Linked DNA regions of Homo sapiens: region 1 is linked to region 2. Evidence: fine-mapped QTL for protein levels in blood plasma. Region 2 holds a variant in brackets. A gene starts in the other region. All regions are shown on their reverse strands.

Region 1 (2,898 bases), not on the chromosome of region 2:
TCCAGGTTTATTTCCAGCTCCCCCGCAACCCCTCCGGACCTGGAGCCGCCTCCGCCCGCGCTGTGCACGCGCTGCGCGCGACCTCAGGGCTGCACACGACAGCAGCGCGCTCCGGTCCAGTCCATGCCCGCGCACTGGCAGTGACATGTGGTCTCGGCGCGCACATCCCACGAGCCACAGGCGGAGCCACAAGTGCAGCCGGTGACGGCGAAGCCTGCAGCCCGGAACACAGGAGCGTGGACTCTGAGCTGGGAGGCTGAGGGTGGGAGCGGGAGGGGGGTGGGGAGCGCGGAGGGGGGTTGGGGGGGCGGGGGTGGGGACGGGGACGGCTGGAGGCTCCAACCACTGAATGGGCACTGGAGGCAGGGAGTGAGGGTGGACACCAGTGTCCAGATGGTGGGCGGAGAAGGCTGGGAGTCAGGACCAAGATCCTAGGGGAGTAGAGGCTGGACACGGGGAACGTGGCGGGGAGGGGGCATTCCCAGGGGACTTGGAACAGAAATGGGCGCCTGGACAACAGTCTCCTGCACTCACCTCGGGGGCAAGTAGCCAGGTCCCCCCTGGAGGTGACGCTCTGGCACTCCAGGCCAATGCTGCTTATTGCCCTAAATACTGGGGGGCAGGAGGAAAGGAGACAGGGGGAGCTGTGAGACCAAACGGTCCCTCCCCCATCCTCCCCTAGCCCTGTTGGTTTGGAGCTAGGTCCCTGTGGGCATAGGAGCTCACTGGCCTCCAGGACCCTGTCTTGAGTTGGGTGTTTTGGAGTAAGGGAAGGTTTGGAGTGAGAGCGGGGATTGGGTTTGGAGCCGTGGATAAGGTGGGGACAGTCGGAGGGGTTGGGAGTGGAGTTGGGGTTGAATTTATGATCTGGTTGGATTTGAGGATGAGATTTGGTGAGCGCTGGGGCTGGGTTGGAGTCAGGTCTGTGCCAGGGATCAGTGAGGTCTCTGAGACCCTTGGGGAGCTTGCCCAAGTGGGGGGTCCTCACTTAGGGAGCCGGCGACCTCCTGGATCCTCTCATTGATGGCTTCTTCCATGGAGCACAGGGTCTTGCTAGACACCAACAGCCCCAGGACAGGGAGGAGGAGGAGACAGAGAGCTTTCATCCTGCAGGCGCTGAAAGAGGGAACCAAGAGACCCACAGCTGGATCAGCCCTGCCCTGTGGGGAAGATCCGGCCCATGGAGGGAGTAGGATCTGCCCCTGGACCTGGACCCCTGTCCCCCCATGTGGGGGACAGGGATGGAGGCTCAGCCTTGACCCCAGCCTCCCCGCTGGTGCCATGGCAAGCGCAGGAGCAGCTGTCACTTACCCTCTCGGTGGGCTCAGCTAACCAAATCCGGCACACGAATTCCTGCACCGCAGCTCTTTCTTTGAGGCCTCTTGGGGTGGGGCTTCCTGGCTTGGCTAATAAGTCCCTGGGCCCCCAACCCTCCGGTCCCACATCCGGGGCCAAGAGGAAGCCCCTGAGCAGACAGTAAGGGCTGGAGGAGGAAGGGAGCCTTCCCACTTCCAACAGGGCCTCCGTCTTCATGTCCAGAGACTGGTCAGGAGGTGGTGCCCCAGGGATAATGCCAGGGGCTGTGGTCTGAGGAACAGGTAGACAAGCAGAGTTTTGCATGCAAGGGTGGCTGATGCAAACATGACAAAATTAATGCCTCTTGCTAGGCATGGTGCGGACAAGCACTTGTAGTCCCAGCTACTAAGGAGGCTGACGTGAGAGAATTGCTTGAGCCCGGGAGTTCGAAGCTACAGTGACTTATGATCACAGCACTGCACTCCAGTCTGGGCAACAGAGCAAGACCACTTCTCTAAAATAGTAATAATAATTATGTCTCTGGGTGAGAATGACATACCACATTCATACCCAAATGCCCATGAGCAATAGAACTGGTAAATAAAATCATGGTTTATGGCCGGTGGCTCACGCCTGTAATCCCAGCACTTTGGGAGGCCAAGGCGGGCGGATCACTTGAGGTCAGGAGCTTGAGACCAACCTGGCCAACATGATGAAACCCTGTCTCCATTAGACATACAAAAATTAACTGGGCGTGGTGGCGTGTGCCTGTAATCCCAGCTACTTGGGAGGCTGAGGTGGGAGAATCACTTGAACCCGGGATGTGGAGGTTGCAGTGCACTGAGATCGTGCCCCTGCACTCCATCCTGGATGACTAGCTTGGGCACCATAGCAAGACTCCATCTCAAAAAGAAGAAAGAAAAATCATGGTTTATTCCATCAATGGCATCACCTGCAACAGAAGTTGGAAAGCCATTGCTCATGGGCCAAGGTCCAGCTCATGTTTCTTCTTGGACCACCCATGAGCTTGGAATGGTTATTACATTTTTATTTGTTCTTTGTTTCCAGTACAACGGGCCTTTTTGTGGTAAAATACATATAACATACAACTTACCATTATAACTTACTTTTTTCTTTTTTGAGACGGAATCTTGCTCTGTCGCCCAGGCTGGAGTGCAGTGGCGCGATCTCGGCTCACTACAAGCTCCGCCTCCTGGGTTCACGCCATTCTCCTGCTTCAGCCTCCCAAGTAGCTGGGACTACAGGCGCCTGCCACCACGCCCAGCTAATTTTTTGTATTTTTTTTTTTTTAGTAGAGATGGAGTTTCACCGTGTTAGCCAGGATGGTCTCGATCCCCTGACCTTGTGATCTGCCCGCCTTGGCCTCCCAAAGTGCTGGGATTACAGGCGTGAACCACCGTGCCCGGCCTTTTTTTTTTTTTTTTTGAGACGGGGTCTTGCTATGTTGCCCAAGCTAGTGTCAGACTCCTGGCTTCAAGTAATCCTCCCACCTTGGACTCCCCAGTAGCTGAAGCTACAGGTATGCACCATCTTGTTCCATTTTAACCATTGCTTTTGTTTGTTTCTTTGTTTCAGAGTCTC
Region 2 (2,928 bases):
GGAAGCAGCTGTCACCTAATGGATGTAATTGATTAAAACTGAAATTCACATGGACTTCTCCAGTTTCAGATATACCACTCTCTGTTTTGTGCACTCCTGTTTCATTCACTCCTTATTCCTGAAGTTTTTGCTAGGAGAGATTCTATGTCAGAAATGACAAAGGACTTCTCAGCCAAATGTGGTACATTCAGAGGTCAGTGCCTGTAAGAATGGACTTCAGAGCAGAGCAGATCAGGTTTAAGTCCTAGCTGTGTTATCGTGAGCACATATAGCTTCTTTAAGCCTCAGTTTTCTCATCTGTAAAATGGGGCTAATGATAATAGCCAGGGTTTCTATAGGGATTAAAACACATAAATAAAGGTTCAGTTCAGGGCTTGGCATATAGAAGATGCTCAGTACATGCTAGCTATTATTATCATTATCATCGTCATCATCATCATTTCTTGGTTACTTCTTTATGTGGTCATGCTAAACAGTGAACTTCAACCAAGAGTGGCTTAGCAGGGAATGTAGGTTACATAGTTGGCTGCACTGTCATAGGCTTTACTTTCTTCTCTTAGAAAACAAAGCATCCTTTGAAGAAGGAATTGCTTTAGTTTCCCATGGGAAGTAATTTCTACAACCCACAAGTAAATGCAGTCTAATGACTAGAATGTGACAGTAGCTATAAAGAATGAAATGTTCCACAAACAGTACTGCCTCCTAAAATTACTCGATCTCAGCACTGTGTTTAGGTCCTCTCTTCCCCACCCATCTTTTTGCATCTACCTCTCATCCTCCCACCCACCCCACTTCTCCCCTATCCCATCCTTTTGGGATCATAAGACCCACCCACCCATCCCCAAATCCCTGAAGAATGTGGGAGTGTCTTGAGGTTCAGGGTAAAGCTGAAAGGCCTAGAGGCAGCTCTGCTTTTTCAGAATGGCCTGGGGGAGGGGGTGGGGTCTTGATGGCAGCAAGAGGCGGTTTGCCAATAGGCAAACCGGTAGACCATGCCTCATGCATTTTCAGGAAAACATCATTTAATCTCAGAACATCTGCAACAGTCTGCAACATATTTTCTCCAGGGTTTGAGTCTAAGCTGACAAAAGATACCGGACACCCCCACAGATTCTGTGACATATCTTGGTATTATTGAACAAACATCAGTTAGGTTCCTGTCTCAG[T/A]GCAGCGTCAGTCTGAATAGGAAATACGCCAGTGCTCTTATCGTTGCTGACAGACTCTGTAACTCACCTGCTGATAGTGTCAGTAACACAGCTTCCAGTTGGGGGAGGCTCTTCTCCCACTTCTTTGAAAGCATTGTTCTCAGGTAGGCAAAATAATTAAGGTGCTTTTTGAGTTTATGCTTACTTTTTCACAGTAAGCAAGAATTCCATGATCAAGGCAATGTACCTTGCAGACACATAATAAATGTCAATGAATTCAACACATTTTGAAACACACCCAGGGCTCATTTTTCCACTGCTTACACTTTCTTTCTGCCCCCTCAATCATCACATCTCCAAGTCTAAAAAAAGTGTCAGATTTAATGCCTTCATTTTATGGATAAAGAGATGAAGGCCACGACATTATAAATTATTTCATTGTAAACATACAGACAAATAGTAGTCAAGCAGAGCCGAAAGCCCTGGATTTAAGATGCATGAATCAGAGCTTTTCCTATCATATCTCACTTAAATGCCATTCATTTCTTTACTTGTTTTGAAAATGAATCTTATCCCTGTATTTGTTCTGTCTTCTAAATTAGAAACCACATACATCACGAGACATCTTTTGTTTGACCCTTGAAGTTTGAAAATATTTTCTGAATTAGTTAACATTTTTCAAAAACGAGGTTTTTCTGAAACATTTGCATTTCTGGCTTCTCTTAAAATGTGGACTATCTGGCAACACTGGGCTTGCATTCTTGCAAGGCAACACTCCGCTGGAGCTGGGAGGCAATTGTCTCCTTCCGATAGGACTTGCACCCTACAGCTTGCTGCAGCGCCTACCACTCCCTGCTGTCTCACATCCAGCCTGCTTTACTCCTTTATCTCCCTTGCTGCTGTAAGCATTTGAACAGGACCAGGACCCTGAGTTGAAAATATGACCAACAATTTCACGGATATTATTGCTCCAATGTAGATAGCATCTGGGGCCTCCCTACTCCTTGGGAGCTGCCTGAAATTCCCCTGAATCCTTAATTCCGTGGCCTGAAAAATATCCAAAGACTTCCCCAGTAGTTGTGTGAATAGTCATGGATTTATATTCTCATGGTTTTCTTTGCCTCTAGCTCCTACGGTTTTGACCCATGACATTTTTAAAGGATCCAGATTCTTCCTTGATCTCCTCCTTTTACCCCAGGCAGTTCGAGATAATGAGTGGATCTGGGGGGTGGGGAGTGTTACGGAGTAAATATTTTAACAGCACTGCTCATAGCAGATATAACTTACAAATTCATCCTCCATGGAGATTTTTCTCCAGCCTTTTGTCCATGCAGGATCCTGCCATTCTTACTCCTTTCCTACTCCAGTGCCCCCACCACCTCTACTTCAAACTTCCCCCTTTAAATAAAGCAGACAAATACAGCCTCCTCTCAAAGGTGCCGTTGCAAACCCATCAAGGTGCTTGAAGAGCAAAGGCCTCTTCCCTGTTAATATTGTCCATGTCTCTTTCTGAAAAGTCAGGATTCTGGACAGCAAATGTTGTACAGTGACACTTCTAAGCATCCCCCACTGGGCACTGGTCTTTAAGGAAGTAAGTTCCCAGGCTCTTATTCCTGGTATGAATCGTATGAATCAGCCAGGTTCCCTAATTTTAGACATGTATAAATTGTGCAGTCTTAGATATCAGAAATCCTAATGGTTTATCTGTTTACATGTCCACCTCCCCCATTGTACCATAAGCCTCTTTATGTCCTATTTATCTTTAGGTTTTCCTTACCTACAC

Alleles and levels. Alleles are on the strand shown, and positions count from the first base shown. The strength of an association depends on the size of the effect and on how common the allele is.
With allele T in place of A in region 2, the plasma level of the protein whose gene starts at base 1,384 in region 1 is lower (weak association).

What was found. A credible set is the group of variants that fine-mapping cannot tell apart. PIP is the posterior inclusion probability: the model's chance that the variant is causal. Protein levels are from antibody-based Olink assays in UK Biobank. Linkage for the fine-mapping came from a reference panel and not from the study's own genotypes, which makes the PIPs less certain.
Region 1: it holds the start of RETN, and the variant in region 2 is the best candidate, but not a certain one, in a credible set for the plasma level of the RETN protein (UK Biobank, PIP 0.89).

What each region holds. Positions count from the first base shown.
Region 1 is chr19:7,667,535-7,670,432 of GRCh38, reverse strand. RETN (resistin) reads right to left here and starts at 1,384. Exons shown (of 4, transcript NM_020415.4): 1 at 1,312-1,384; 2 at 989-1,116; 3 at 535-612; 4 at 1-214. The coding sequence starts at 1,106. The coding sequence ends at 84.
Region 2 is chr4:54,540,947-54,543,874 of GRCh38, reverse strand. No RefSeq gene overlaps it. Among named protein-coding and RNA genes, the nearest start is that of LINC02260, 65 kb to the left of the region's middle. RefSeq lists a cis regulatory region at 777-1,388. The variant T/A (reference allele first, on the strand shown) is at 1,167.